Regions from separate parts of the Homo sapiens genome. Here region 1 is linked to region 2. Evidence: fine-mapped expression QTL. A gene starts in region 2. The other region holds a variant in brackets. All regions are shown on one strand. Distances are between the middles of the regions. Region 1 overlaps NEURL1 (neuralized E3 ubiquitin protein ligase 1). Region 2 holds the start of NEURL1 (neuralized E3 ubiquitin protein ligase 1).

What was found.
Region 1: its variant is fine-mapped to the expression of NEURL1 in whole blood (TOPMed, PIP above 0.99).

What each region holds. Positions count from the first base shown.
Region 1 is chr10:103,550,547-103,566,504 of GRCh38, forward strand. The region is part of intron 1 of NEURL1 (neuralized E3 ubiquitin protein ligase 1); the gene reads left to right. Among named protein-coding and RNA genes, the nearest start is that of NEURL1-AS1, 41 kb to the left of the region's middle. RefSeq lists an enhancer at 13,236-14,216. The variant TTCC/T (reference allele first, on the strand shown) is at 8,264.
Region 2 is chr10:103,485,268-103,501,225 of GRCh38, forward strand. NEURL1 (neuralized E3 ubiquitin protein ligase 1) reads left to right here and starts at 8,438. Exons shown (of 6, transcript NM_004210.5): 1 at 8,438-9,205. The coding sequence starts at 9,121. NEURL1-AS1 (NEURL1 antisense RNA 1) reads right to left here. Exons shown (of 4, transcript NR_120675.1): 3 at 9,294-9,468. RefSeq lists silencers at 5,348-5,417, 8,647-8,796, 8,807-8,936, 9,017-9,116 and an enhancer at 8,783-9,332.

The DNA of each region.
Region 1 (15,958 bases), 65 kb after region 2:
ACCTGTTAGCGGATGAGAAGTCCAGCCTTACTGCCTGTTCTCCACCTGCATTTAGGCTTCATCCCTGGAATGTCACCTTCTGTCTTCTGGAAAACGTCTAGGCTCTGCTGCCATACAGAACCCTTCTGCTTCCTTAAGGAGACGGTCCACTGTCCCCTTGTCTTCTCTCCTCTAAGCAAGAGGGGCCCCTGCCCGTTGCCCTTTCCTGGATGGAGCATGAGTTTTGATGTCAGGCAGGTCTGGGTTTGAAGCCTCGTTTGTCTTGCCTTCAGAATAACCTCTCTAAGCCTCAGTTTTATAGCCCGAAAATGGGGGTGATTATAACTCCTGAAGGGAAGTTTTGGGATTGGCTGATACATAAGATACTTAGCACAGTGCCTGGCACACAGTAAGCGATCAATAAATGGTAGCATTTATAGCTTCTGCTATATATTTACTTATAGCCTCTCCATTCCCCTTTCACATCGTTTCCAAAGTGCGGCTATAGAATGGAACACAGATCATTTAGCCAGAGCTGAAAGAACCTGATTCCTCAATCCCTGCCTGGCTTCTGCTGGGATCTGGAACTGCCTGTTACCCCGTCCATGCCCGTTTTACACCCCTGGCTTCTGCAGGGTGGGCATTGGGTCCTGCTCACCAGTTGGTGTATAGTGGGCACTCAGTGAATGGTTGATGAATGAATAAGTGAATGAATGATGTATGTTAGTGATTTTCTCACCCTTTTAGTAACAGAATCCTTTGGTCAAATGAATTTTTTTTTTTTTTTTTTTTTTTGAGATGGAGTCTCGCTCTGTCGCCCAGGCTGGACTGCAGTGGCACAATCTTGGCTCACTGCAACCTCCACCTCCTGGGTTCACACGATTCTCCTGCCTCAGCCTCCCCAGTAGCTGGGATTACAGGCGTGTGCCACCACGCCTGGCTAACTTTTTATATTTTTGGTAGAGATGGGGTTTCACCATGTTGGCAAGGCTGGTCTTGAACTCCTGACCTCAAGTGATCCACCCGTCTCAGCCTCCCAAAGTGCTGGGATTACAGGTGTAAGCCACTGTGCCCGGCCCCAAATGAAATTTTATGGGATGCCCCAGTGAATAAAACAGAGAAGGGGTGCAGCTCTTCTGCCATATCCCGGGGCTGCCTCTCCCTCTAGAGGTCCTGGACACTGCCTGAGGAAGTGACAGGAGAGGGAAGCCTCAGACACAGGACATTGATTGCCACATCCTATTTGGGGAAGTGATTGTGGGAAACAGGCTCATACGTCTGTGGGAAAACCCTTTTAGACTGCAGTGTCAAAGGCCTGGGGGCCACTCGGGCCACCTCCCAGTTCTCTGTTCTGTTTCACTCAAGTGGCCAGAGTTGGGGCTGCTGCTCATCTGAAGGACTTCCAGCTCGTGGAGCCCCAAACCTGCCCCATCCCTGCTTGCTTACCACTTGGCTGCTTTCCCACAGTCCTGTGTCTGAAAATTACATGATTTCAGGTCTGTTTGTGAGATGTTTTCTGAGTGCCTGCTCCGGGCAGGGGCAGGAGTGATGTGAAGCCCGAGGGGAGTGAGGCTAAGTCAGGCAAGGCTCACCCTGTGGGGTGCAGGATGCGGGATGTTGCTGCTGCTGCTCCCTCCCCTTGAGCCTCCTGCCTCCTCCCTCACCCTTCACAACCAGATAGGACAGTGACTTTCTGAAATGTGGGTCTGGTCTGTTGCCTCCCTGCTGCAGGACTTCCCTATTGCTCTCAGGAAGAAGGCCAGAGTCTTCGCCCTTCTCCTCAAGACCCTCCTGGTGTATCCCTGACCCATCCTGGCTCGGCAATGGAGCGTTTCCTGAGGCTCCTCCTGCTCACCCTGCTCCATACCAACCTTGCTTCTGGAACACACCAGCTCTCTCCAGCCACAGGGCCTTTGCCTATGTTGTACTCACTCTCTCCCCTAAGCCACCTCCACAGCACAGGGCCATTAGCCTTCAGATCTTGCCTTCACTGTTGCTTTTCAGGAAAGCCTGTCCTGAGCCTCCCAGAACCTTGCTCCTTTCTTTCAGACCCTTTTTCTCAGGTTGTGATGATATACTCCTTAGTGAGACTACTGGATAAATGTCTGTTTCCTTCTGGACTGGAAGTCCGCGAGAGCTAGGACCTGCCACTGAGGGCCACCCTTGCATCCTTAGTGTCTGACACATAGTAGGGGATCAATAAATGTGGGTAGAGTTGAATTAAATGGTTGAGGTGCACCCAGGAGAAGCTGGGGCAAGCAGATAGGGCCCCAGCCAGGCCATGGCTCTCTCTGTATAGGACCGAGTAGGGTAAGTGTTAGGAGATGCCCAGCTCAGGAGCTCAGAGGAAATATAAGTGCCAAGAACAGGGACTTACTCTTACCTAGGGCCCTAGGGAGGCTTCCCAGAAGAAGTGTTCCCAGTGCTGGGTGATGGGAAGGGGGCATTCCAAGTGAGGAGAAGGCAGGAACCAAGGTGAGAGGGAGGCTGATGTCTGGGTGTGGGGCCATAGGAAGGCCAGGCTGGCATGTGCGAGGGATTGGTGGGCAAGGGGCCAGCTGAGTGTGTTAAAAGGCAGGCAGGGTGTGGAGGGTGACTCTGCTGCTACAGGAACAGCCTCCAAAGCATCTTCTTTTGGCCTCAATTTCCTCATCTGTAAAATGGGCATACACATACACTGATCTCTTAGGGTTGTCGTGAGGATTGAGCAAGTTAAATGCGTCACACGCTCAGGGCAGTGTGGATCATGCAGTAAGACCTCGTGTTTGCTGTTATTATGATCATTATCCGACAAAAGGAGTTTGGCTTACTTTCTCCTTGTCAGACTGACTTAGCTTCCCGCCCCCATGGGAACTGGGTATGTGTGCCAGGAAGTGTGTGCGTGTGTGTACGTGTGACTGCACAGCTATGAGCCGGTATGTGCCTGTGGAAAGTGGGCTGCCTTGTGCGGACTCGGGTGTCGTGGCTTCTCCCGGAAGTCGTGGGCATGCCTCTGGCTCAGGGGAGCATCGGCCGACTGGGCTTGCTCTCCCCCAGATCCCGCCCAGCCCTCTGCTGATGACTCTAGGTCAGGCCTGAATGTCCCTCCTAACCGCTTCCCCAGACCCACTCAGAAGTGGGAGCAGCAGGGTCTTGAGCTGCGGGCTCAGGACCCAGTCCAGTCCCTTACAGGGCCCAGGCCTCTGAGTTCCATCTGCTGTGGGACAGCCTCCACCTTTCCCGTGGCCCCTTCCTCAGCCCCTACCCCTCTGTCCTCCCACCTGCCCGCTGGCTTTCTCTTCCCACCCAGCCCTTTCCCTGGGGTCCAAGATCCCAGACCTTGAGGACAGGGGCTGGTGTCCAGGCCAGGGCCAGGGAGGATGGTGCTGTCCTGTTGTCCTGGTAGAGGCCCCTGAGCTTGTGTTGGATGGTGACATTGTCCCTCAGACATGGCCTGAGTCCTGGTCCTGCCTGTGACCTGCTGGGTAACCTCACGCAAGCTCCTTAGCCTCTCAGAACCTCCACTTTCTTCTCTGTAAAACAGATATCATCATAGCCACTGCCACCCACACAGTTCCTGGTGCACGGTGCATGCTCATTGCATGGCAGCTGCTCTCTTGATGATGATCTGGGCTCCCGGCATGCCTGCCCAGGGCTGGAGGGGCCTGCCATCCCAGCCTCCCTCTTCCCCCTCTGTTCCCACCTTTCCCTCTTCCCTGAGTGTGGGGTGCCAGTGTCCACCTTAAGATTTCTCTAGAAACTTTGCGAGTCTGTGGAAGCAGGCGTATGTTGACTGTGGACATTGAGAGGTGTGCATGTAACCATGTGAGTACATGTCTGGTGGTCAGTAGATGGCTGAGTGCGCTCAGTGGTGAATGCTCCCAAGTGCTTATGAGCCCATGTATATGCACATTTGTGTGACATGATGCAGAAGAATAGTGCAGGTCTGTGTTGGGGTGTGTGGTGTGTGTGTATGTGCATGGTTAAAGGGATAGGTTGGTGTGGGGGGGAAAAGCCTGGATTCTGGTGCTGCACTGCCTGGGTTTGCATTCCAGCCTTGCCACCTTTTAGGTGAGCAGCCTCTCTTTGTCTCAGTTTTCTCATCTGTAAGACCATCATCATCATCTTAGAGATGGTACCTGTTGATCTGTTGATAATGACTGTAATACTGACCTCATCATTCAGCCTGTGAGGACCAAAGGAGTTAATACTTGCAAAGCCCTTGGAACAGAGCCTGGAAGAAGACAGAAACGGTGTTAGCACTTGGTTAACAGCTCCATCAGCTTGATTGTGAACCTCTTGAGGGCAGGGACGATGTCTGTTTTGCTTCCCAGGGGGTCCCCTCTCACCTAGCAGGACCTCTGCATGTAGTAGGTGCATGAGGCTAGTGAATGAATGGCTGTCGGCCTGGGCGTTCAGGGAGGGCTGTGTGTGTCACTACATCCCTGAGATGGGGCTGTGTGTGATGGGGATGTGTGTGCGTGTGCGCGCCTCTGCTCGCTTTCTGGAGCTCGCTGCTATTTCAGGAAGCCTCCAGTCTCCTCCTCCTTATGTAAATAAACATGACAGATCCCATCGGCTGTACCAGCGCGGGAGGTGGGGAGGCTGGAGTGGGTGGGAGCGGGGAGGCGGCGGCCGGAGGGGTGTGCGTGCTGCGTGCGCGTGTGGCCGGCTGGCCGCGGGCGGGCGGCGTGCGCGTGTGCCGGAGGGGGCGCGTGGGGGCGCGTGGGGGCGCGGGAGGGGCCTCGGCCCTGCCATGCCGGTCTCCGCCCGCGGGGGAGGAGACGGGGGAGGAGGAGGGGAGCAGCCGGCCGGGGCGACTCGGTGACCAGCCGGCCGGCCCAGCAGAGGTGGCTGCACTGCCCGTCGCCGGAGATGGGGGGACAGATCACCCGGAGCACTCTCCACGGTAAGGCCCCGCGGATGCCTGCGGGCCCGCCCACCCCAGCCCGAGACCGCCTGGGGAGGCCGGGCGGAGGGGCGCTGGGGCTGAGGGCTTGGTCATGCCCCTACTTCTCACTCCATGGAGGGGTCTGGGGCTGTGTGGGGGCACCTTTTGGTGGTGGGCACTGGGGTGGGGGCAGCAAGGGAGCTGGGTAGAGCAGGAAGAGGGGTGCCTTCCCTGACAGTGGCGCCCTCCCACTGATGGTGGGAGGTCAGGCAGCTGAGGCTCCCCACAAAGTCTCCTTGTCCTCTTACCTCCTTGTCCTCTTACCTCCTTGTCCTCTTACCAAGGTGCTGACTAGTCCCCAAGTGGGATGCGAGGTCCTGGGTTTCCCTACCCACCTCTCCCGGGACGGAGGCAGCCACAGTTAGTTAGACAGCTGAGGGGACCTGCTTGTCGGCTCTGGGATGTGGGCCTTGGAGATGGTGCTGTGTTCTATGCTGGAGCCCCGCAAAGACATGTGGGCACCCACATGTGTGCTGAGTGTGCATGTGTGTCTGTGCTCGTGAGTAGGCACTGAAGGTGCCCGTGGGTGTGCACCTGTGCCGGCTTGTGCCTAAGCACACGGGTGTGCAAGTGACAGCACCCCACAGCGCCTGACCTCGCTTCTCCAAGTGTGTGCTCTGTGGGGGAGGCCAGAGAACTTCTGAGCCCTGCAGGTCACGTCCACAGTCAGACAGACCCACAGCCTGGAGCTGGAGGGGTTAAAGAGAGGGGGCCACTGGCTGGCTCCCCATTTGCAGAGCTCCTGCTTGCTCCAAACCCTGTCCTCTTGTTCCCCTAGCTCTAGTACTGTGGTCTTGGGAGCGCCATGGCCGATGTGGCAGCAGACCCGGAGAAGCCTTCCTAGGGACTTGTGTGTCTTCCCTGGGCCCTGGGAACTGGGGTCCTTTACAAACCAGCCAGAACAGAATAGGCTGACCTTGGGGAGTCCCTGACGCACTCCCCTATGTACCCTGCTCCCTGCTTGGATGGGGTATTAGGAGGTGGGACAGTGTCCATCTGCCGAGTCCAGTGGGCACTGAGGAGCCTGGGAGAGGCTCAGGAAGGAAGGAGGGTGGTGGCAGGAGCGCATGGGCAGCCGCAGCCGGAACTGGTGACCAGGTGGCTTCTCCCTTCCAGGCTCTGGACTTTGGGAGAGTAATTTCTAATTAAAAAAGAAAAAAGACAGGGAAAGATGTAGGAAAAGCAAATCATTGGCTCTCTTAAAAGGAAATGAATTCCGTCCTGGGTTTGGAGGGCTAAGTGACAGATGGAAGGCCCTGGAAGACACATAATCCGGAGCCAGGCCAGGGGCACTGCCAGTGGCCTGGGCCTTGGCCGGAGAGTTGGATTGGGCTGACCTGAGCCTGGCCTTGCCCGTCTGTGGGGTGGGGGCTCTTCTCAGGGCTTGCTGGCCCCGGCGGGGCCTGTTGGCAGAGGGTCTGGAGCCGACTGGCATTTTCCACTGGAGTCAGACTTGGGCAAGCCTGTGGTCTGGGAAGGACAGAGAGGCTCTCAGAGCAGACTCAGGACATAGTACACTGTCCTCCAGCTGCCTGGAGCACAGGCTCCCTAGAGGGTGAGACCACCTTAGCTCATGCTCTGGGAGTGGGTAGATATGTTTTGTAAGGAAGGCAAATGTCTTCCCGAGCCTCAGTTTTCTCACCTGTCAATGAGGCTAGTAATAGCACCCTCCTTCTAAGATTGCTGTGCAGGCCAGGCCCGATGGTTCACGCCTGCAATCCCAGACACCTTGGAGGCTGAGGTGGGAGGATTGCTTGAGCCCAGGAGTTCGAGACCAGCCTGGATAATATAGTGAGACCTCGTCTCAAGAAAAAAAGAAAACAAGATTATTGTGAGGATTACATGAATCATGTGAGCAGAGAACTCAACATGGGGAAAATCAAGAGGGCTTGGAAAGGCAACCTGGGCCCAAGGTCATATTCCCTCCCTCTCATTTGTCCCATTTCCCTGGGGGCAGGAGGATCACTTGCGGTGCTCTAAGAACTCTAGGAATTGGGCATCCAGGCTAGGTGGCCATCAGTGAGCGCTCATCAAATGCCACATCTGCCTTGACCTCCACCCTTTTGCCAGGACCGCCCTCCCAGGCGGGGCCTCCCTTAAGCTGGCCCTGGGCCTTTGCCATTGCACAAGCAGAGGGGACAGGAGTTGGAAGGTCTGGAGAGGGAGTGTTTGCCTGTGTCCACACAGCCAACCTCCACCCCCATCAGAACCCTTGCATATGCGTCCTCATGCATCCACGCCCATGTGTGCCCACACCTGTACACACGCCCTAGCTGCCCCAGCGGCTCTGGTTTCACCTTCTTCTGGGAAATGAGCTGGGGCCAGCGGGAGACGCAGGGGTTTGCTCCTTCCTAGGGGTGCCGTAGCCTGTAGCTGGGCTCCTGAAGACACATTGAAATGGTCCTTGATTGTATTATCTTTTCTTTTCTTTTCTTTTTTTTTGAGACGTAGTCTCTCTCTGCCACCCAGATTGGAGTGCAGTGGCATGATCTCAGCTCACTGCAAACTCTGCCTCCTGAGTTCAAGCAATTCTCTGCCTCAGCCTCCCGAGTAGCTGGGATCACAGGCACCCACCACCATGCCCGGCTAATTTTTTGTATTTTTAGTAGAGACGGGGTTTCACCATGTTGGTCAGGCTGGTCTTGAATTCCTGACCTCGTGATCCACCTGTGTCGGCCTCCCAAAGTGCTGGGTTTACAGGTGTGAGCCACCGCGCTTGGCTGATTGTATTTTCTTTAGGGCCTTGGACTTTCGGCTTGATTCGGGCCAAACATTTTGGATTGCTGCGTTAAAGTGAGTGAGGGGAGGGTGACAGGAGGACCCAGGACTCTGTATGTGTGTCGGGGGTCATCTAATTGTGTGTTTTGTTTGTGGACGTGTTTTGGCTCTCTGAGCTTCTGATGTCAACAGATGTGTATCTGTGTTTTAGATCTCTGTGTACCTGTGTGATGTGTCTCTAACTGTGGATTGAAGCGACTGTGTGTTGCCGGGCCTGTGTTTCCATGCGGGGGCAGCCACATCTGTGGTACTCTGTGCCTGTGCCATGCCTGTGTGTGTGTGTGTGTGTGTGTGTGTGTGTGTGTGTGTGTGTGTAGTGGGGCTGGTGGTGAGGAGTCGGGCTCCTCTGGGACCAGCCTGGCAGGAGACCCATGGGGAAATGAATTCCCATTTGGAAAATGGTTTAAGCGGTTACACGCTTGATCTCTTCCATTCGGTAGGTTTCCAGAGCTGCTCCTGGTCTTGAGAGCAGGCTGACAGGGGCGGGAAGGGTAGTGCGAAGAGGGAGGCAGCAGTGACACTGGGAGGTCCCCCTCCTCTCGCCTCTGCCGTCCTCTCTTCTTCCTTTCCCCCCAC[TTCC/T]TCCTTCACCTCCCTTCAATGCTCCCTCAGGGCAAGGAAGGGACCCCTTGCTGACGGCTGATGTGTGGGTGACACACGCACCTGCACCCAGACATTCATGTCACCCTCAGGTTAGTCTCTGGATTTAACAAGCCTGAGTGTCAGAGGATGCTGGCGTACAGGGACCCGAGACATTGGCTCCCACCCCCTCCTGTCACAGAGGGAGATGCTGTGGCCAGGAAAGGGAAATGGCTAACTGAGGCCACACAGCTGGCGCCTCAGTGGGGAAGCCAGGACTTGTTCCTTCTGCAGCCGGTCCCCCACTTACCGTTCTTGGGTTCCTTAATCCTCAAGCAGGCAGCAGCGGAGAAGGCATCCAGTGGCCTTGTGAAACCCAAGATTAGCAGAGGGAGCTACCTATCTCCCGGCAGCAGCTCTGGGGGCTTAGACCAAGGGGAGCTCCGGAGCTTGAAGGTGCACATCCCCACACCTGGCTCGTGCCTGTGGGCTCCAGGAAGGTGGGCATCCGGTCACTCTAGCTCTGCATTCCCTTACCTCAGCCTGGCGCCTGGCACACAGTGGCTCCCAGCAGATGCTGGGTCAGTGGGTAGCGGGGAAGAGTGTGGGGTGGACAGAGGCCCTTGCCTGCTGGACGGCAGGGCAGTTGGAGCTGAAGGTGGCCTGAGGGGTGGGTGGGGTAGCCATCAGGGAGGTGAGGCCAGGGCTGGGCAGTGAGGCCAGGCAGTATTTGGAAAGGAAGGGAAGGCGGAGCAGGTGTTCTCGGTGAGAGTTTGAATCCTGTTCTGCTCTTGCTGGCTGTGTGACTTTGGGTCAGTACCTTCATCTGTCTGCATCTCAGCGTCCACTTCTGTAAATTGGGAAGGGTAAGTTTTACCTTATAGAGTTGTAGGAAGGATTAAGTGAGCCAGTGGACGCTAAGGGCAGTACACCTGGTACATAGTAAGCACTCCACAGAGTGTGCTTTTATGAAGGTTTTTGTGGAGGCTCCTCTAGGTCTGTGTGTGCTTGCCAGTGCATGCACACACATATGTGCGCACACACACACATGTACATGTACACATACGCACACACATACACACATGCATGCACACACACAACACACACATGCACACACATATTACACACATGCACACACACGTACATGCACGCACATATATACACATATGCACATGCACACATATACACAATGCACGCACACATGCACACATACACACAAGTGCACACATAAACACACGCACACACACATACACGCATGCACACACACATACACACTCACCTGCTGCCTCTGTCCCCCAGCCCTGCACATTGGTTGTGTCTGCCATGAGGCACACGTGCCATCTGTGTGTGTGCACGCATGTACACATGCATGACTGTGGATTTGATATGGGGAGCTAGGGGTGCTGATGTTACTGGGCTGCACTTCCCCTCATTCTCCAGGCCTGGCCTGGGGGGCTGGAAGGACTGGGGCAGGGATTGGGAGCTGAGCCCTGAAGAATTAACATTTGGAGTCCCCTCCTGGAATCTTGAGGTGGGACACAAGAGGGAGAGGAGGAGGACTGGTCCTTCTCCCAGAGCAGTGAGGAATTGGGAGGCACAGCTGTATAACCTCTGGCTGCTAGAAATGTCAGGATGGGGATGTTGCAGAGTGAGTGAGAGCAGGAGGCTCAGTTGGGGATTAACTTGACTATGAAGGTGCCAGTCTTAACCGTTGCCTGCCACTTTCTTTCACCCACCCTGTCATGATGAGTTCATTCATCTTCCAGGGAGCAGCAGGACCTGCCGTTCGCATGCCAGGAACTCTGTGGGAGGTGCCAGGGTGCTAACATGGCCCCCACCCTGGGCATGCACAGGGGCTGTGGTGTTCATGGAGAAACTAACTTAGGAGGAGAGAGGGGACTGAGCATGCCAGTTAGCTAGCTGGAGCCCGTGGAGGAACCTCTGCACCAGTGCGACAGATCTGAGTTCAGAGCCCAGCTCTGCCACTTACCAGCTATGTGACCTTGGGCAAGTTATTGCCTCTCAGAGCCTCTGTTTCCTTATCTGTGAAATGGGACTATTGATACTGTTTTAGTCATCTATTGCTGCTTAACAAATTATTCCAAAACTTAGCAGCTTAAAACAACAAACATTTAATGATCTCCCAGTTTCTGTGGCTCAGGAATCTCTGCACTGTTTAGCTAGGTGCCTCCGGCTTCATGTCTGTCATGAGGTTGCAATCACATTGTTGGCTGTGGCTGCTTCGCAAGGCTTGCCAAGCTTACTCACGTGGCTATGGGCAGTCCTTGGTCCCTTGCCACACGGGCTTCTCCATGGGGTGGCCCCACACCGTGGCAGCTGGCTTCCCCCCGAGGGAGCAATTCAGGAGAGGCAAGAGAGTAACCAAGATGGGAGCCACAGTCTTTTTATAACCCAGTCTTGGGTGTGACATTCCATTACTTCCTCTGTATTCCTTTTTTTTTTTTTTTCGAGACAGAGTCTCACTCTTCTCACCCAGGCTAGAGTGCAGTGGTGTGATCTCAGCTCACTGCAACCTCCACCTCCTGGATTCAAGCAATTCTCCTGCCTCAGCCTCCCAAGTAGCTGGGATTACAGGTGCCCGCCACCATACCTGGCTAATTTTTTTGTATTTTTAGTAGAGACGGGGTTTTATCATGTTGGCCAGGCTGGTCTCGATCTCCTGACCTCAGGTGATCTGCCCACCTTGGCCTCCCAAAGTGCTGGGATTACAGGCATGAGCCACTGCACCAGCCACTTCCTCTGTATTCTATTCATTCGAAGCTACTTGTTAGGCCCAACCCACGCTTAAGGGGAAGGGGTCACACAAGGGCCTGAATGCCAAGAGGTGGATGCAGGGATTGTTGGGGCCATTTTAGAGGCTGTTCCCATAGACACCTGCCTTGCAGGGATTGGAGGGTGTGATCAGGTTGTGTATGAAGGGCAAATGCTGCAGCATTTGATACACAAGAAAGAATCAACCCTCATGGCCTTCCTTATCTGCTTCTTTTCTACTGCTGGCAAGTGAGGAGCTATTGAAGGTTCTTGAGCAGGCAGGGCTGTAGTCAGGCATGCTAGGCAGGGAAGGGAGCTGCTCCCTTTATTCCTTTCTTTTTCTAATTTCTCCACCGGACACCAGAAAGGGCAAGGCACGAAGTGGGTGCTGCCTGAACTCCTGCCAATTCATCAGTAGATAGAAGAATCAAACACTAGCAATTCATTCAGTAACTTTTATTGAGGACCTGCTATATGCTGTGAACTAGGCTATAGGGATACAGTAGTAAAAAAGACAATGGCTCTGGGCACCATGGCTTACGCCTGTAATCCCAGCATTTTGGGAGGCCTAGGCGGGCAGATCATGAGGTCAGGAGTTCGAGACCAGCCTGACCAACATAGTAAAACCCCGTCTCTACTAAAAATACAAAAATTAGCCAGGCGTGGTGGCTCGCGCCTGTAATCCCAGCTACTCAGGAGGCCGAGGCAGGAGAATCACTTGAACCTGGGAGGCGGAGGTTGCAGTGAGCCAAGATCACGCCACGACTCTCCACCCTGGGTGACCGAGCCAGACTCCGTCTCAAAGCAAACAAACAAACAAAAAAAGAAAGTGGTCTCTGCCCTAGGGAGGCTCACAGTCCATCAGGGGGAAAGACAGGCACAAATAACCTTGCAGCCTTTCCCAGTGCAGTGCTACTCTGCAGAACACAGAAGCTGATGGGAGTGACTTCTCAACTCTCCTGAGGATGGCATAGAACCAAAATCATTCTGGATGCAGAAGAGACAAGTCAATGCATTGCATACAACAAGTGCCTCGGGGTATCTGGGCTTAATCTTGTGTAAGAACCAGGATTGGGAAAGGCTGCTTGGTGATGCGTCCTCTGTTAGGGGGCTGATGGGGTCCTCAAAGGTCCATAGTAAGGCCCCTAACCTAGTCTGGGGGTCAGAGAGACTTCTGGGAAAAATCTACGTCCGAAGGATGCATGAGAAAGGCAGATATATAGGTGGGAAGGAGGAAGGAAATGTTCCCAGCACAGAAATGGGCCTGGGCCAAGCCTGGAAATCAAAGACAGGTGTGGGAGGTGGAGGCCCCTTTAGGGAACCCAAAGAAGTTTAATTCTGCCCAGTTTTACAATCATCTCTGTCCCCCAAGTTCCATCCCCACCTGTCCTTCTCCCACCAGGAGTCAGGCATCCCCAGCTTTCCAACCATTCTCCTAAATCCTTTCCCCCAGAGGGAGCCCTGTTCAGTTAATGCAGTTAAACGAGTCCATATCAGGACCACCCTGGCAATCTGAGATTAGGACGTTTGGGGTAAAATAAGACTGAAGTTCCTAGTCTCCCATTGGACTGAAATGAGCCGATCATTTCCTGCAGTAGTTATGTTTGCTTTTATATTTTTAAAAAAGACCTTATGTTGCGATCAAGTGTTAAAGTTTGCAAAATTCTTTCACATCTATAAACTTACCGGGGCCTCACTACAGCCTAGAGAGGTGGGCAGGGCAGCTATGATGAGCTTCATTTTACAGAGAAATAAATCAAGGTCCAGAGAGGTGAAGCAACTTGTCCAAAGTCACACAGCAAGTCTGTGGCCTGGTCAGGGTTTGAACCCACGGCCTCTTGCCTCCAATACTCATTCTCTGTGCCTCGCCCCACCGCCCAGAAAGTGAGACGAGACTGTCTCTTGGATGAAGATGATGATGCCAGCACTGGTATTCAGGACCACAGATTCAGAACAAGATGATCTTGGATGCAGTGGGCTTCAGCTGGGCCTTGAAAGATGGGTGGGGTTTGGAGAGGCGCAGATGAGGCAGAGGGAATGGCTTGAGCAAAGGTGTGGGGATAGGAAAGCAGAATGATATAAATAGTAATAATAATAATAATAGCAACTACCTACTGAGTTTTACAAACACCATCTATTTTAATCCTCACAAGAATCCCATGAAGGCCTGCCATGACCCCATTTTACAGATGAGGAAAGTGAGGCTCCCAAGGTCTTACAGTTAGTGACAGAGCTGCTAGGTTTGGAGGCAGCCAGCCCTGGGTTCAGATCTGGGCTCCTCACTCAATGTGTAAACCTAACTTCAGAGGATCTGTGCCAGAGTGGCATTGGGGGCATAAATCAAGACACTGCCCTTGAAGCCATGAGAGGCTGGGCACTGTCATCAGTATCAGTGCCTCTGCTCTTGGCTGGGGTGGTGAGCTCCCCCCCATCTCTCCTTGGCAGCCCAGCTGAGCCCAGCCTAGGGCATCTGGGTCTCTGCCAGTGGTTCTGGGGCAGAGCTTGGTGGGGGCCATGGGGAGGTCACTCCGGAGGGTATGTGTGTCAAGGCGTCTGCCCTGGGACCCCGCTGAGAGGCAGGAATGTGGTCTGCCAGCTGAGGGTCACCCGGAGAGCTGGCCAGGCTTGTGTCTGGCAGCTCATAAATGCCCAGGAGGAATGGGGCTGTCGGGGGAGTTTCCACCATGTCAGCAGCAGCCTCGCCTGAGGAGGGTGCCCCCACTGGGGCTCCCAAGAAGCCTGTAAACCTGTCACTTGAGGGCCCTCCCTGGGAGCTCTGCTGAGAGCCACGTGGCACAACTGGGGCTCCATCCAGTTGTGTGTGCCTCTGTAGAGCAGTTGTGCAGCCCACACGCCCCCCCCATTTTGAGGCACTTTGCTGCAGCTGCTCCCCTAGCCTGGGCTGCCCAGCCCCTCCTGCACACAGCCTTCCCCGAATTGCCTGCTGTCTTGGACTCGTGGGGAAAAGGAGCTCTAGTACCACAGGCTGAGTAGGGTAAAGGTCCCCAGACATGGCTTTGGAAGACCAGGGTTCAAGTCCCAGTTCTGCCACATAACTGCTGTGTGACCACAAGTGAGTTGCTTAACCATTCCGAATCCAACTCCTTCATTCGTAGAATAGGGACCTTAAAGGGTCATAGTCCCAGTGCTGGGAGGGACCCTGTTACATAGTGTAGGGGGGAAGCCCCACCTCCAGCTGTCCCCTCTGGACCCTTGGCATCAGAGCTATGTCCAAAGTTCATTCTCATTTTGCTTTCTGCTTGCCACCCCACTCCCTGCCTCCAAGATTTTAATGCCAGGATGGAGGAGGGGGTAGCAGGAGCAGGGACACTGCAGTGGGGTAGGAGGGGGGTCACCCTGATGAAGGCTGCACATTGGACACTCATAGTCCATGAGAACAGCGCCCCCTAGAGGAGTGCTGGGCACAGCGCATCGCGGCCCCAGCCCTGGTTTAGAAGAGTGGCGAGGCCTGAGTTAGGGCTGTAGCCGCAGGGTGGACAGGAGAGGACAGAACCCAGGGGTGCTTATTCCTGAGGCAGGATTGGTAGATGGGGTGAGGGGTGCTCAGGGGCTCCCCTGGAGCCAGGAACAGGGAGGGGCAGGTCAGGAGGGCAGCTGGGGCCTGCCACGTGACAGGAGCCCACAGTCCATGGCAGGAGATGCCCAGCACACCAGAGAGGCTTTTCAAGTGGTCTCCCCAGAGGTGGCTCAGTGGGTGATGATCACACAGCGAGCTGAGTACAGACAGAAGGGGCTGAGGACAGCTGCTCAGGCCGGGCCGGGCCTGGCAGAAGACAGGCACGGTAATCAGTGGGTGGGGCTTTGCAGCTATGAAGTGCTCTCTCTCCATACCTGGGGCAGGGAACCCCCGTTCTGTTTCACAGCTGTGGAAGGAACTTAAGGGTTAGGGTGACAGGCCCAACTAAGCACTGGGGCTCTTCTGGTAGATGGCCACATCCTAGGCACTGCCCAGGGTGAGCTGATGGGGGTGCCGTGGTGGTGAGAAAGTGCAGCCTCTCTTCTCTCCGTCTGAATGAAGATGTGACTTGTTAGTTGTATTATAGATTTTACTTTTAAATTTAATTTTTTGTTTGAGACAGGGTCTTGCTCTATTGCCCAGGATAGAGTGCAATGGTGCTCTCACGGCTCCCTGCAACTTTCCAGGCTCAAGTGATCCTCCCGCCTTAGTCACCTGAGCAGCTGGGACTGCAGGTGTACACCACCATGTCTGGCTAAGTTTTGTAGTTTTTTTGTAGAGAAGGGGTTTTGCCATGTTGCCCAGGCTGGTCTCGAACTCCTGGGCTCATGTGATCAGCCTGCCTTGGCCTCCCAAAGTGCTGGGATTACAGACCTGAGCCACCGCACCCAGCCAGTTGTAGCTTTTAAATTGAGGTATAATATGTATATAGTAAAACTCGTCCTTTTCGAGTGTACAGTTTTGTGAGTTTTTACAATGTACAAGTTGTGTAACCACTACCCCAGTCTCAAGATATGGAACATTATTTCTTTCTTTTCTTTTTTTTTTAGAGACAGAATCATGCTCTGTCACCCAGGCTGAAGTGCAGTGGTGCTATCATAGCTCACTGCAATCTCAAATTCCTGGGCTCAAGCCATCCTTGCGCTTCAGCCTCCCAAGTAGCTGGGATTACAGGTGCGAGACACCATGCCTGGCTAATTTTTTATTTTTATCTGTACAACGAGATGAGGTCTCACGGTGTTGTCCAGGCTAAGATATGGAACATTTCTATCGCCATAAAAACTTCCTTCCTGCCTCTTTGTAGTCAAATCTCTCCCCTACTCTCCTTCTCTGATACCTACTGATCTCTGTCTCTCTCTAGTTTTGCCTTTTCCAAAATATCATACGGATGGAATCGTACAGCATACAGCCCTTTGCATCTGGCTTCTTTCACATAGCATACTTTT
Region 2 (15,958 bases):
CAGCCTCCTGAGTAGGTGGGTCTACAGGTGCACACCATCACACCTGGCTAATTTTTGTTTCTTTGGTAGAAATGAGTTCTCACTATGTTGCCCAGGCTGGTCTTGAACTCTTGGGCTCAAGCGATCCGCCCACCTCAGCCTCCCAAAGTTCTGAGATTACAGGCATGAGCCACCGCACCTGGCCTCATAAACTTTTTTTTTTTTTTTAGACGGAGTTTCACTCTTGTTGCCCAGGCTGGAGTGCAATAGCGCAATCTCGGCTCACTGCAACCTCTACCTCCTGGGTTCAAGCGATTTTCTTGCTTCAGCCTCCCGAGTAGCTGGGATGCACCACCCAGCTACTCAGTGGCATGCGCCACCACGCCCCACTAATTTTGTATTTTTAGTAGAGACGGCGTATCTCCATGTTGGTCAGGCTGGTCTCGAACTCCCAACCTCAGGTGATCCACCCGCCTCGGCCTCCCAAAGTGCTGGGATTACAGGTGTGAGCTACCGCGCCTGGCTCTGGTAAACATTTTTAAGGTGTTTTGAATGGCTTGAGGGCTCCCCAAAAACGTTTGTCAGAGACAAAGGGGATTCCAATGGAGTTGTAGTGTCACCTAGTGGTGGCTGGAGGGAGGAACTGGGGTGAGAGGAAGGGAGAGGCGGGACACACAGCAGGTCTGCTCTTTTGGCTATGAGAAAAACTTCCCCCAGCTATCGTCCCTGGGAAGAGAGCTGCCCTTGGGTGTGCTCTGGGACTGCTCTGGGGAAGGGTGCGTGAAAGGGAGATGTCACACTGCCAGCAGCAATTGGAGAAAAGTCTGCTCCCTGTCCTGGGTCTCACGCTAAAGGCATTTGGTGTGATTTAAGGCTGCTGGCTTCTTGGAGAGATGCCTCCTGACTCCTATTTGTCTTTCAACTTTGGCCATGAAGGAGTGTTACACTTTTATGTGGTCATATTTATCATACTTTTCTTTTATGATTCTCTGGTCTTTGTAACGTTCTTGGAAGGGCCATCCTGCCAAGTAAAGGCCACTTAAAACATCTGTGAGAGAAAAGAGGATGCTGGGGGTACTGCAGCCATTTCGAGCATCTTTCTTTGATTTTATTGTCTTTTTACTCTGTTTTGTGTTCATCAGTAGCTGTGTGCTCCCTGGCTAACTTCCAGAAAGCTGAGCTGAAGCCACCAGGCATCTTAGGTGTCCTCAAGCAGGAGGGGGCTGGTTCAGGAGCTCAGTGAGGAGGCCTCCTTTGCCACAGGTGTCTCCCTCAGGCTAGGGACGTGAAGGAATTCCACCCTGGTGCAGGCACAGTATCATGGGAATCAGGACTCAGGCTGTCCTAGGGCTGTGCCTCCACGCCTCCCCCATCAGCTCCTAGGCAAGTGACTTAGCCTCCTGAAGCCTCGGGATTTTTATTTGTAAAATAGGAATAATAATAGTAATAATAACAAGAACAAAAATAGTACCTATCTCACAGGGTTGTTTCCAGACTTAAATGAACTAATGCATCTGAAGTGCTTAGACCAAGGCCTGGGACACATGAGTAAGTGCTTCATAAATGTCACCTGTCACAGTTATCTGAGCAAGTGGCCCTGGGATAGATCAACTGATGCTGGACTTTGAAGTCAGTACACAACTGTCTCAGATGGAGACACACTGTCCTCTTTCCGACATTGGGCATTTTCTTTTTTTTCCTTTTTTTTTTTGAGATGGGGTCTTGCTGTGTTGCCCAGTCTGGAGTGCAGTGGTGGGGTCTCAGCTCACTGCAACCTCCACCTCCAGGGTTCAAGTGATTCTCTTGCCTCAGCCTCCCAAGTAGCTGGGACTACAGGCATGAGCCACCATGCCTGGCTAATTTTTCATATTTTTAGTAGAGATGGGGTTTCGCCATGTTGGCCAGGCTGGTCTCAAACTCCTGACCTCAGGTGATCGGCCCACCTCGGCCTCCCAAAGTGCTGGAATTACAGGCGTGAGTCACTGTGACCGGCCAACACTGGGCATTTTCCTTTCTGCTTCATGGAGGAACCTCCTTCCGTCCTTTCAGATACAGTCTTGGGAGTGCTTGGCCTCAGGTCTGGATTTTTTCCATGGGTGCTATGGGTACTTAAGCCTATGAACTTTTAAAGCATCTGCTTGAGACCAGAAAAAAACATTACTGTCCTCAAGTTATGAAAGGAAAACTTCAAACCAAAATTAATAAATGTTCACTTAAATGCCTTTGTTGTATCAATGTCATTGATTGCTAAATGTAGTACTCATAAACATTTCATTATATTTGAAGACAAACATAGTTTTTTTCTCACTTGGCAAGGCATCCAGCACACGCATGATTGCTTAGAAATAAAACCAGTTGTAAATTCAGTGAGTCCCTTGTCATCCAGTGATTCCAAAAGCCAAATTTGTAAAAATCCTTTCAAAATGTTTACTGCAAGAAAATGATGTTTAATGTGGAATGCGGTATATTTTAGTACATTTGGCCTGACAGGGTTGGGCTCCAAAATAAGAGTTTGGGGGTCTATGAAGACCTCACAACTGATCCTGGATTCAGGGGCCACCTCCCAGAGGGCAAGTTTGTCTGTGGGGCAGAGGAAGGGGCTGGGATTCACCCCTGCTACCTCCTTGCACAGTCACCTCTTCCAATAAGTTAGCCCTGCTTGTGTGGCAGCCAGCACTGGCCTGGTCCCCATGGGGTGTCCAGCTTTCCCCCGAGAAAGCCTGTAGGCCTTCTTTAAACACCGTCTTCACAACTAGAACATGTGACCATGTGGAGCAGTTTCCCAATGTGTAATCAATAAATGACCTGTATCATACTCTGCTCAATCTAAGTCTCAAGGGGTGAGGTCTGGGAGTCTGCATTTTAGTAACTTTCTCCCCCTCTCCCCAAGGCCTCATAGATGATTCTGATGCACGTTTAAGTTTGAGAATTATTAGTCTAGAGTGTGTGTGCACCCCAGGAGGAGGGCAAGATGATCCCTTTTTCAATATCATTAGTCTATGTTTCATAATATACATAATATGAATACAGTAGTGCATTTTTAGAAATTATAAATAAAGAAATATACATATATTGGTGTACACACTTTAAAAATTTATTACTGCTAGGGGTGCGTGATCAAAAAAGTTTGGAGCTCAGAGCAACGTGCCCAGCCCAGCTATGCGGTCAGACCTGCTGTATGTTCAGCTCTGAACCTGGGCCTGGGAGGTGGGGAACTGGGACTGGAGTGCACAAAAAGCAGAGGACAGGCTGCCCCATGGTGCTAGCAAGGAAACTGCATCTCATCAGCGCCAGGGATACAGGTAGTGCTCAATAAATGGTCACTGGGCAATGAGTGAAGCTGAATCCCAAAAATACCTGGGAATAAGATGGCATAGGGCCCATTCCATCCTAAAATGGGCAGCACAGACTTCCATCCTTCAGAGGGAGGGCCCGACAGCTTAATCCATCCATTTCTTTATTCATTCATTTATTTAATAACTAGTTATTGAGTATGCACTAGGCATCAGGCACAGGCACTCAGAGATCTACCCCTCCAACTTGTCCAGCCACCCCCTGAAGTTCAGACAGGACACCACCCTCTCCCCCGACAGCTTTTCTGATAGTCTGATTAACTATGGGCTGGTGGCTGGGTGGACATGGTGGCACATGCCTATAATCCCAGAGCTTTGGGTGGCCTAGTCGGGACCTGAAGCCAGGAGTTCAAGACCAGCCTGAGCAACAAACTGAGCTCTCATCTCTTACAAAACACAAATAAATAAAAAATTAGTCAGGTGTGGTGGCGCATGCCTGTAGTCCCAGCTACTCGAGATTGAGGTGGGAGCATCGTTTGAGCCCAGGAGGTCGAGGTTGCAGTGAGCTATGATCACGCCTCTGCATTCCAGCCTGGTGACAGAGTGAGACCCTCAGCTCTAAATACCAAAACCAGGCGGAGTGCAGTGGCTCACGCCTGTAATCCCAGCACTTTGGGAGGCCAAGGTGGGCAGATCAATTGAGGTCAGGAGTTCAAGACCAGCCTGGCCAACATGGCAAAATCCTGTCTCTTCTAAAAATACAAAAATTAGCTGACCGTGATGGCACGCACCTGCAATCCCAGCTACTCAGGAGGCTGAGGCACGAGAATTGCTTGAACCCAGGAGGAGAGGTTGCAGTGAGCTGAGATCATGCCACTGCACTCCAGCCTGGGTGATAGAGTTAGACTCTGTCTCAAACAAACAAACAAATAAACAAAACCCAAACAAAATGAAACAATGGGCTGGGACTTGGGGAATGGGAGGGTGCTACCTGTGGTAGCCAGGGATAGTTGTGGCTGTTTCCCATTTTAAGGTTAATTTCTCTGCCTGGAGGGAGGTGTCATGCCATTGACTAGGGTGGTCTCAATTCAGGGGAGTCCAGCTTGGCCTAGAGGCGCCCCACTTTTGTCTGCCTGAGGAAAGGTCATCACTCTGGTTGGTTCTGAACTCAGTATCCAGAGGCTCAGGGAAGGGAGTAGACTCTCAGTTAAATATGCTATTATTTTATCAACGCGGTAACTCTTCAAGACTTGAATGGATCTGGAAGCTATGGAGAGAGAGAAAGAGGAAGGGAGGTAGAGAGAGGCGAACCAGGCAGGAGCGGACAGCCAGGGTGGGAAGAACAGAGGTTGCAAGGAGAGAAAGTGACCAGGGTGGGAAGAAGCAGAGAAGGAAGGGCAGGGGGAAAGACGAGAGGGGGTGGGAAGGGGGTAGAGAGTGAAAGAAACCAGCAAGGGCCAGGTGCGGTGGCTCACTCCTGTAATCCCAGCACTTTGGGAGGCTGAGGCGGGCGGATCACTTGAGGTCAGGAGTTAGGGACCAACCTGGCCAACACGGTGAAACCCCATCTCAATTAAAAATACAAAAATTGGCTGGGCACGGTGGCTCATGCCTGTAATCCCAGCACTTTGGGAGGCCGAGGCGGGTGGATCACGAGGTAAGGAGATTGAGACCATCCTGGCTAACACGGTGAAACCCCATCTCCACCAAATATGCAAAAAATTAGCCGGGCGTAGTGGCAGGCACCTGTATTCCCAGCTACTCAGGAGGCTGAGGCAGGAGAATGGCGTGAACCCAGGGGGCGGAGTTTGCAGTGAGCTGAGATCGCGCCACTGCACTCCAGCCTGGGTGACACAGCGAGACTCCGTCTCAAAAAAAAAAAAAAAAAAAGAAGGAAAAAAAATTAGCTGGACATGATGGTGTGTGCCTGTAGTCCCAGCTACTCGGGAAGCTGAGGTTGGAGAATTGCTTGAACCTGGAAGGTGGAGGTTGCAAGATTGCAGTGAGCTGAGATCGTGCCACTGTGCTCCCACTGGGCAAGACTCTGTATAAAAAAAAAAAAAAGAGAAATCAGCAAGAAGAGAGCAACAGGGAAGGAAGGGAAGGTGGGAGTGGAGCTGCTGTTGAAGGAAGCTTCCTCAGGTCCCTGCCTGGGGCCTCCCTCTCCTGCATGCCTGTGTGTGCACTCACAACACCTACGCATGCACATACAAGGACACAGGTGTTCGCGAAAGTGCACACGTGTGCACTGACACCCACCCCCTCAGGCACTGCCCGCAGAATCTGCACTGCTGGGTGTGTGGGTGTTGCCACGGTGACTGGTGCTGGAGCATCACCTTGTGGGTATTAATAGCTTCCCCTGAAGCCATCAAAACAGTGACTTCATCAGCCCCAGTCTCCCTGGCAGTTTCCTTCTTCCTCTTCCCTTCCAGGATGGGTCTGGGAAGGGTCTTCTGGATCAGAGCCACCACCCAGGCACCCCACCCCTATGAGCTGCCTTGGGGAAGGATGGCAGGAAGGCCTCTGAGTTCTGCCCAAGGTCTGGGGGTAAGGAGACTGCTGGCCTTCTTTAACCCTCTGAGCTGGGTCTACCCTAAGTCCCTGCCAGGGAGGAGTTGCTGGGGCACAGGACTCCTCAGAAGGGCCACGCTCAACTTCTCTGAGTCCTATGCAGCCACACCAACCTCCTCTAGGTCCCTTCCTGGCCAGAGACCTAGTTGACTCTAACAGTGGTGTCCCCTCTTCCAGTACAGAGCTCCCTGAAGTACTAGGGTGAAGGTAGAGAGGGGCCTAGGGCGTGAAATATAAGAGGACCTAATTCCCAGGCTCGCGCAAGTGCAAGCTTGGTATCTGCATGAACTTGAGAGTTGGCGCCTTCTTCAATTTTGCGCCAGGGATGCCTTGGCTACCTCATCCTATCCCAGCCCTATTGATACTCCCATCAGCTCCTCAACCCTCAGTTCCCTGCCTTTGTCCCTGACGCCTCTCACCTTCCTTTGGGACTCCCTGGGATCACGCTGCCCTGAACTGCAGAACCTGGGCTGCCTCTGGACTCAGGTGAGCATCCGCCTCTGGCCTTCACTTCCCTCCTTCCCTTTGACGTCTTCCTCTCTCCCCTGCTTTGCCCATAGCCCCAGGTCTAGGCCATGTGGGGCCTGTGACATCCCTTTGTCAGGCGCGGTGGCTCATGCCTGTAATCCCAGTACTTTGGGAGTCCGAGGCAGGTGGATCACCTGAGGTCAGCAGTTCAAGACATCCCTGCTGTGCTCTACCTTTGGGGCCTCATCCCCTCCCCCATTCCCCTGCCCACACCAGGCTTCCCTGGAGCCACCGTCTGTAAATCCTAGCTAGGCCCTTGTACTTCAAACACACTCTAGCAGGATGAGTCTCAACTATGCAGAGTCCTCATATTTGTTCTAACTTGTGAAAGGCCTGATTCTAGTGGCCACTCACAGTGACTTCATTCCGGCAGATTTCAGGGGGAATATAAGTGTGTGTGCTTGTATAGGTGTGAGTGTGTGAGATAGTGTAGCGGTGTGTTAGCACATGTGTGAGTGTGTTGCCATTAAGAGCCTGTGGATTTCTGATGCATGAGTCATTAGCTGGGAGTGAGCCTTGGGAAGATACTGCCCATAAATAAGACAGCCATCCCTGACCTGCTGTGGCCATCTGCAGCTGCCTGCACACGTGATCCTGGGCATCTGGGAGGCTGGAGGCCGGGTTCGGGGCTGCCTTTCCCTCCAGATTCCAGAGAGACAGTGGCTGTCACAGATATTTCTAGCTTGCCTGGAGTCCCAGACATTTAAGGGTAGAATGCCTGGAATGGGGATGGAGAGAGGAGAGTAGGAGAGGAAAATAAAGGGTGGTTCAGGAGGCTCTGCCCCCAGGGATCTCAGTGGAGCCTCCTGGCCCACAGTGGGAAGCATGCATTCCACAATTATTTTCTGAGAATCTGTCACATGCCAGGCATTCCCCCAGTGGGTAAGGACACCCTGGTGAACACGACTGACCTGTGCTCTCCCCTCACAGAGCTTATGTTCTAGCAGGGAGGCAGAAGATAAACGAGGAAAGGCTACTTGTAAACAAGTTCCATATAAAAGCTATGATGAAAATAAAATGGAATATTGTGGAAAGTGACTGACAGTGGAGGGGGTCCTTTAGTTGGGGCAGTCAGGGAATGTCAGGACACGAATTGTGCCTAGATAATGAGGAGCTGCCAAATGGAGACTTGGGGGAAGAACCTTTATTACAGAAAAGGATACATGAGATGTCCCCCTGCCCACCCATGTCTTCACTGGACTCTGGATCTGAGTTGCTGAAGCCAGAGCAGGGAGCTAGAGATGACTTAGAGGAGCAGGAAGTCTGATTCCCTGGGGGGAACCTTGGAACATCTTCCATCCCTGATAGACCAGGAGAGATGCCCCGGGTCCAGGAAGGAGAAGAATGACTTCTGTTTCCCTTCCTGAAGGCTTCTTGGTGCAGTGTTGAGCTACAGGAAGGCACTAGCCACATGAGCAGGGCCCTTGCTGAAACCCCCTTCCTCCAGGAAGCCTTCTTTGACTGCCATAGGCTGCAGAGGCTCCTCTCCCCCACCTTGTTATAGCTAACAGAACCACTCAGTTCAGAGCTGGTGGTCTTCTGATGATCTGTCCCGGAGATCTGTTCCCTCAGCTTGGCCAGAGCTCCAGGCTTGTGAGTCTGGTCCGCGGGCATTCAAAGGCCCTCAGTGGCATCTGTGCATCAGTGAGACTGCCCGGGGTTCCTGCTCTGAACCCTTGCCCTAGTGCCCCTAGCCTGGCTGAGAACGGAGGGTCAAGTGCCGGGGTTCTAATCTCAATTACTTTATCCAAGCATCCGCTCGCTCATTTACATGTTTCCCTGGGCTCTCCACTCTGCGCCAGGCCCGGTACCTGGAGCTAGGGAAACCGAACATTAGTGCTGGCTCGCCCGCCCCCGCATCCGGGGAGCTCGGCGTTCTCGCGGCCCTGCTCCCCTTGTTTTCAAGTGCAAGTTCCATGTTTCCGTGCTGGGAATAAGGCCAGCCCCGGGTGCCACCATACTCGCCTGATGTCTTACCCCGACCCGCGCCGCCGAGAGCTTGCGGCTACGGGAACGCGGCGCGCCCCGGGGCCACATCTGGCCTAGCGGGCGCGCGCGTGTCACTAAGACGCTCATTCACCGGCGCAGCTGTCACCATAACAACCGGAGCGAGGGAATCCTGGAGACTGCCGGGGCGGGGGGCGGGGGCGGCGGTCGCAGGAGGGACCCGGCGCGGGCGGGACCGCGGCGGTCGGGGGACACCAGCTGCGTCGGAGCGCCCAGAACGCCCCGCGCTCCGCCGAGCCCCGCTCCACGCAGACCCGCGGGCGGGAGGGAGCCACGCACATCGCCGCCGCGGCCGTCTCCGCGGGGCGGTAACCGAGCCTGCCTCGGAGCCGCCGAACGCCCACGCCAGCGACCCTGACTCTATGGCCCCGGGGGAGCGCGCCGGAGCCGCCGCGCCGCCCACCCCCAGCCGGAACCCTAGCGTCCCGGGGAGCAAGCGGGGAGCCCCGGGCGTCCCCGGCCCCGGCCCAGGGCCCTGCTTGTGGCCCCCGCTCCCGCCACGGGGCATGGGAGGCAGGTAGCCCAGCCTGCGCCAGGACACCCGTGGCGGGCGGAACCCGCCAAGGACCGCGAAGTCCAGAGAAAGGAAGCTGAGGAGCTGCCCGCCCGCCCCCGGCTGCAGCCCCAGCAGGGCCCTCCCCCGGTGGCGCGCACCCGCGCGCGCACACTCGCACACCGCACCTCAGCGCCTGCCCGGCCTCGCCCCCACCCGCGAGCGCCGAACCTCCTGGGGCCGGATGCCATGGGTAACAACTTCTCCAGTATCCCCTCGCTGCCCCGAGGAAACCCGAGCCGCGCGCCGCGGGGCCACCCCCAGAACCTCAAAGGTAGGCTCCCCGGCCGAGCGCTGCTGGAGGACTGGGGCGCAGGTGGAGGGCCAGGGAGGTGTGGTTGGGGAGGGCGGGCAGACGCCACCTGTTGTGCGTGTCTGGAGGCCGGAGATGCACCTCTGGCCGTGGAGTGGGCTGGGGGTGGAGGGCAGCCGGCGATGATGGTGATGGAGGATGGCGTCCCGCGGGGTCTGCGCAGTTCTGTCTGCTGGCACTGGGAACGTCACTGGAGTCCCCTCAGGCCATGGTCTTAGGCGAGCCTGAAGAGATGGGAAAGGATGTTTGCCAGGTCGATAGGGGAGTGGGGAGTGAGGAGGGAAGCTTGGGTCGTCCGTGTCTCCAGGGAGGCACCTCGATGGGTCTCCTTTCCATCGGCCCTAGGGCTGGAGAGACCAGGCTGGGAGCACTAGTTGCATTTCCAATGGGAGGGTTTTAAAAATTCAGGACAGGATTACAGCAGCCTGGAAGAAAGGGTCAGAGCTGCTGGTTCCTGGGGTCCTTTGCAGCCGTTGGGTTTTTGCATCCATTGAATTAGTTTGATTTCTGGTTTTCCCAAAGACCAGATATCCAGTCAGAGCCCTAGAAAAGAGGGTCTGGGAGCCTTGAAACAGAGGGACATTTACTAGGAATGTCTTTGCTCTTCACCTCCCCAGATCCACTCAGCACCCTCAGGGTGGCCCTAGGCCCAGTCTCCCCATTCGGAGCCTGCCATTCCTGTCTTGGATCTTCCAATGCTGTCTCTGACCTTTGGAAGACACTGCTGGGTCCTCCCGGGCCCTCAGACCCTACTAAATTCCTTCCGGAAGGTGCTTTTCTGTCACCTCAGAACCAGTGGCACTTGTCCTGGGCATGATGGCTAAAAGCCAGGAAGGGAAGCCCTTGGGCTTTCAGAAAGAATACCCCACTTCCTAAGCTCCTCAGGTTATGAGAAGGATAACAATAGTGCCCTTTAACACAAGGCATCGAACTTTCTCAAACACATTTTCAGTGAGCATGGACACTGCTTGGGGTAGTCAGCAGAGCAGAGCTAATCACACTATACCCATTTTACAGATGAGGAGAACCAAGGCTTGCTTCAGGTTCCCAAAGCCAGCCAGACCTCGGCGCTAGGTGCTAGGCTGTAGACCCCTATCTTTTGACTTGGAATTCTGTCCCTTCTTTTGCTGAACAGTTAACTTTTAAGACCAGGGAAGAGGAGGAGAGATAGGACCACTGTCCTGCATTCTAATACTCCAGCTCTTTCAGAACTTCAGCTTTCACTTGGCTCAGGAAAATCAGTGGATTTGTTGTGTCTTTCTGGAAATTAATATGGCAATACATGTCAAGATACTTTAAAAATATCAATTTGTTGGCAGGGTGCGGTGGCTCACGCCTGTAATCCGAGCACTTTGGGAGGCTGAGGCAGGTGGATCACTTGAGGTCAGGAGTTCCAGACCAGCCTGGCCAACATGGCGAAACACTGTCTCTACTAAAAATACAAAAATTAGCCGGGCATAGTGGTGCGTGCCTATGATCCCAGCTACTTGGGAGGCAGATAGGCAGGAGAATCCCTTGAATCTGGCAGATGGAAGTTGCAGTGAGCTGAGATCGTTCCACTGCACTCCAGCCTGAGCGACAGAGCGAGACTCTGTCTTGCTAAAAAAAAAAAAAAAATCAGTTTGTTGACCTTGTAATTCTACCTTGAGGAATTGATACTAAGGAAGTGGAGATGCAGGAATATATACTTATGGCACTAGGCTAGGATGTTCATGGCAGTGTTATTTATACTAGGTGGATAACCTAAATGCTCAGTAATCATGGTATATATTCTTGGTAGAGTACTATGCAGTGATTACAATTATATTTGTGAAGAATAGTTGATGACTGTGGAAAATGCTCACAGTATAACGACAGAATACAAAGTTGTGAAGACTGTATGATCCCAATTTTGTTTAAAAAGTGGTGTGAATGCAAAAAACCCCAACAAAAACAAAACAAGCAAAAATGCTTGTAAAGTTTCCAAAGGGTTAACAATTATTTCCTCTGGGTATAGGATCATATGGGATTGCATTTTTTCTTTTTTATATTTTGCTCTTTTCTAAAATTTCTATAATAAGGAAGTATTATTTTTGTAATCAGAAATAAGCTATCAGTGTTAGCAAGTATGAAGACTGTTTCTGAGCATTGGAAACAGATTCCTAATGAACCTATGAATATCGTTCAGCTCAACCTTCTCTGCAAGTGAGAATAATGAGGGAAAAGAATAATTATTTGCCCAAATTAAAGTGGCAAAACTTGGCCCTGTCCTTCAGGGGGCAAGGGTTAGCTGGGGGCAGGGGTTAGTTGGCCCTTAATATTCACAGACTATCTTCCTGAGAAGGTCTTGCTCCATCCTTGACTCTGTGGAAACCCAGAGAGCTCCCAACTAATTGCATCTTTTTAATCTAAAATTTGGAATTGTGGGGATCTGAGGTCTCTGTGGCTAGGGTCTTTGGCAGAAGGCAGGAGTGGGGGCCCCATCCACACACCACTGTAGGTGACCATGGGAATTTTGATCCCGCCCCTACTAAGCCTGAAATGAAGGACAGAAGGTACCCATGAAGGCCGCCAGTTGTTGGCTCTGTCCTTCACCCAAGGTCCACTGATCCTCCTTCTCAGCTTGACTTCTAAGGACTTCTTCCCGTCTTTCTACCCTAATAGAGCCATCACCTTTATTCTGTAATTGTTTAGTGTTTATTCCCAATTCTCTTCTAAATGTATCAGCATTGACCTACGAGTCTTCTCTGGTATATCAGTGGTCAGCCAGAAGTTCATTCTAATTGTGTTGGTGTTGACCTGATAGGCTGTGATGCTAACTGCCTAGCCAGAGTTCTGCTGGGATGGCGTCTGTACTCAGCTTGAATTCATCTCTAATTCTTGTCAGTGCTCATCCAGAAATTTGCTGGGAGTAGGGGTGGAGTGACTGTCTTGATTTTTTTCTCTCCTTACATAATTTCAGTCTCTTGATTCCTCACCATTTTAATTAAAACAACTGGAAGGGACCTGGTATAATGGGGATCCTGGGACTGATTGGAGATCTAAGATTGGTCTGGCTGTTAGGCTGACATGACATGGGACATGGGACCCCACCATCGCCTCTCGGGTGATAGACTTTGGTCTTCTTCCTGGGAACACACTGACCCCACTCTGCTGCTGGTGATTCCCACTGGGTTCTGAACAGCGTTGGTCTAGGAGTGTTCAGGGGAGAGGTCCACGGTGTAGCTCTGGGCTTAGAACCAACAGGCAGTGCCCGAGGAGCTCCCATGTGCCCAGCTCAGAGATAAGACACCCCTGGGCTTTCCCAGGCTGGAGATCTACTCAAAAGGCATGGATGAGGGAGTGAATGGAATCAAGTGTTTGCTTGGTTGTACTGTCGAAACCCAGATATGTGGGCAGAGGTCAGACAAGGGGTATCAGGGGAGGATCTGAGCTGGACATGGAGGGAACTGCAGGAACTGGACAGAAAGCAAGGGATGCAGCAGAGTCCTAGGGTGTGGAAGAAGGGGGAAAGGCACTGACAGTAAAGGCTTGGAGGGGCTTGAGCGTATATCTATATATTACATGAAATAGAAAGTATATGTATATGGAAGTTATGTATATATTTTCAGTGAGGGGCACAGAGTGACTGGGGTAGGGTGCACAGGAGGTTCATGCCTCTTGGAGAAAAATACAAAGAATAAAGATTTTCCTCCTTGCCCAGGTCTTTCTGAGTGCCTGACTGGATGGGCTACCTCCTTTTATTTTTTATTTTTGAGACGGAGTCTCGCTCTGTCGCCCAGGCTGGAGTGCAGTGGCGCGATCTCGGCTCACTGCAAGCTCCGCCTCCCGGGTTCACGCCTTCTCCCGCCTCAGCCTCCCGAGTAGCTGGGACTACAGGCGCCCGCCACCGCGCCCGGCTAATTTTTTGTATTTTTAGTAGAGATGGAGTTTCACCGTGTTAGCCAGGATGGTCTCGATCTCCTGACCTTGTGATCCGCCCGCCTCGGCCTCCCAAAGTGCTGGGATTACAGGTGTGAGCCACCGCGCCAGGCCCATTGTTTTTTATTGTAAAATTTATATAACCTGAAATTTACCATTTTAAAATGTATAATTCAGTGGCATTTAGTACATTTACAATATTGTACAACCACCGCCTCTACCTAATTCCAGAATATTTTTATCATCCCAAAAGGAAATGCCATGCCCATTAAGCAGTCACTCCTGTTACCCTCTCCCCTGAATCCCTGGAAACCACGAATCTACTCTTTGTCTGTATGGACTCGCCTATTCCAGGCGTTTAATATACATGGAAGGATACAATATTTGTCCTTTTGTGTCAAGCGTCTTTTACTTAGCATAATCTTTTCAAGTTTCATCCATGTTGTAGCGTGCACCTTTTTTCCTTTTGTGGTTGAATAATATTCTATTGTAAGAGTATGCCACATTTCACTTATCCATTCATCAGTTGGTGGACTTTAGGATGTTTCTACCTTTTGGTTTTCATGAATAATGCTGCTATGAACATCTGTGTCTAAGTCTTTGTTTGAACACCTGTTTTCGGTTCTTCTGGGTATACACCTAAGAGTACACCTCCCATCTTTCAAAAGGTGGTGCTTCTTGAATTGGATACTTCACAAAGTCACTGGTTGTGACAGTTGTAGGAAGGCCGTCCCCCTCCAGCTCTGGCTGGGTGTGACGCCAGCGAGACACCTGTTGTTTTCAGTCTCTTTTCTATGATGGCTGAGGCTGCTGGGGGGCTGAAGGAGAAGCTGCAAAGGTTGACTAAGGGTCTTGATTCTTGTGGTGGGCCAGAGTGTCTGTAGACCCTGAATTTCCTCACTACTCTCTGGGGATGAGAGCAGGGGCAGGGGAAGGCTCATCCTTGGACAAGGTCTTAGCTATTTTTCTTTCTCTCCCTCCCTCCCTCCTTCCCTCCCTTCCTTCCTTCCTTCTCTTCTTCCCTCCTTCCTTCCTTCCTTCTTTCCTTCCCTTCCTTCCTCCTTCCCTTCCTTCTTTTCTTTTCTTTTCTTTTCTTTCAGCTGGAGTGCAGTGGTGGATCTTGGCTCATTGAAGCCTCAACCTCCTGGGCTCAAGTGATCCTCCTGCCTCAGCCTCCCAAGTAGCTGGGACCACAGGCCCACGCCACCACTCCTGGCTTATTTCTGTAGGTTTTTTTTTAAGAGATGGCATCTTGCCATGTTGCCCAGGATGGTCTGGAACTCCTGGACTCAAGCAGACCTCCTGCCTTGGCCTCCCAAAATGCTGGGGCCACTGTGCTCAGCCTCTAGCCATTTTTCTGCATTCACATTCTCGCTGCTACTTCCCCTATCTGAGTCCTCATCCCAGATATTGCCACAGCTGCCATCCTAATTGGCTTCTCTGCCTCCGGTCCCTCCTTCGATGCTGCCGGAGTGATTCTCCCAAAGTACTATCTTCATCATACCCTTCCCCGCTTCAGTCACCATAATGGGATATTCAAGGTCTCCATTCTTTGGTCAACCCACAGATCTTCCCTCAGCTCTTGTCTGGGCTCCTTCCTTGGTTGTCATGACGCTTGCAGATTAGGTGAGCTCATCCAGCTCTCCACCCCCGGGAATGCAGCAGACGGATCTAGGGGGTGCCTGGTGGCCTCCTCAGAGTGACTGGCTGCGTCAGCCCCGTGTTGAACCCAGAGCACCCATCCTGCATGCCCTGTTGGTTTTCAGTTCGGTTTTACCTTTGAACCCTGTTATGTTAATTATCATAATAATATTTACAATAGCTACCATGCACTGGGTGGTTACTTTGTACCAAGTTCTTATATGTGGATTATTTCCATTAATACCCTCCCAACAACCTACAGAAGGAGGTAGCATTGTCACTGTTTTACAGATGGGGGAAAAGGGGCTAAGAGAGGTTAAGTAACTTATCCCAGTCCACACAGTTAGAAACTGATGGGGCTGGGATTCAAAGCCAGGGCTCTCAGACTTTAGAGTTTATTATTGTGATCGCTGTATTATCCTGCCCCTGTAGCATTTAGCCTTGGGTGGGCTCTGTCTTTCATTGTGGGAGAGAGATGGGGGAGTAATTTTTGCGTCTCTGGACAGAGCCCCAGGGCCGGGAAAGGGCACACAATGGGGTTCTTGATGCTTTCTCCCTTGGCTAACCAGAAGATCAGGAGGGCTGTGCTAGTCTGGAATTCCCAGCCTCCTCCCCCTTACGCTTTCTTCGGGGTTTTAGACACTTTGGAGGAAACTTGTGGTTCTTTGGGGCCAGTGTTTCTCAGAGTGAGGTTTTTCTACTGCCTGCATCAGCATTAGCTGGAAGCATGTATACCATGCAGGTTCCCAGCCCCCAGCTCAGACCCGCTGACTCAGAATATATTGGGGATGGGACCCTCAAACCTGCGTGTTTAACAGGGTCCTCAAGATCTGAGAACTGTTGTGACTCTGGGGCCTCAGAACAGTCCTACTCTTGCATGCTTGGAGGAGGTGGGACCAGGCTCCTCAGAGGAGGAGAGCCCAGAGTTGGATGGGGGAGATTTGGAGGGGAGCTAGAAAGGTGTCTTGGTGAGTGGGCTGGCAGCAAAGGCACAGAGGCAGAGAAACACAGGATGTGTTCAGGGATGGTGAGCAGTCCTCTTGCCTGGATGTGGGGTCCCCAGTGGGGAGGTTAACAGGTCAATCTTTGAAGGTAGGCTAGGGTCATATCTTGGAGGGCCTATGATATTAGGACGAGGAGGTTAGATTTTATCCTGTAGGCATTGGGAGCCAT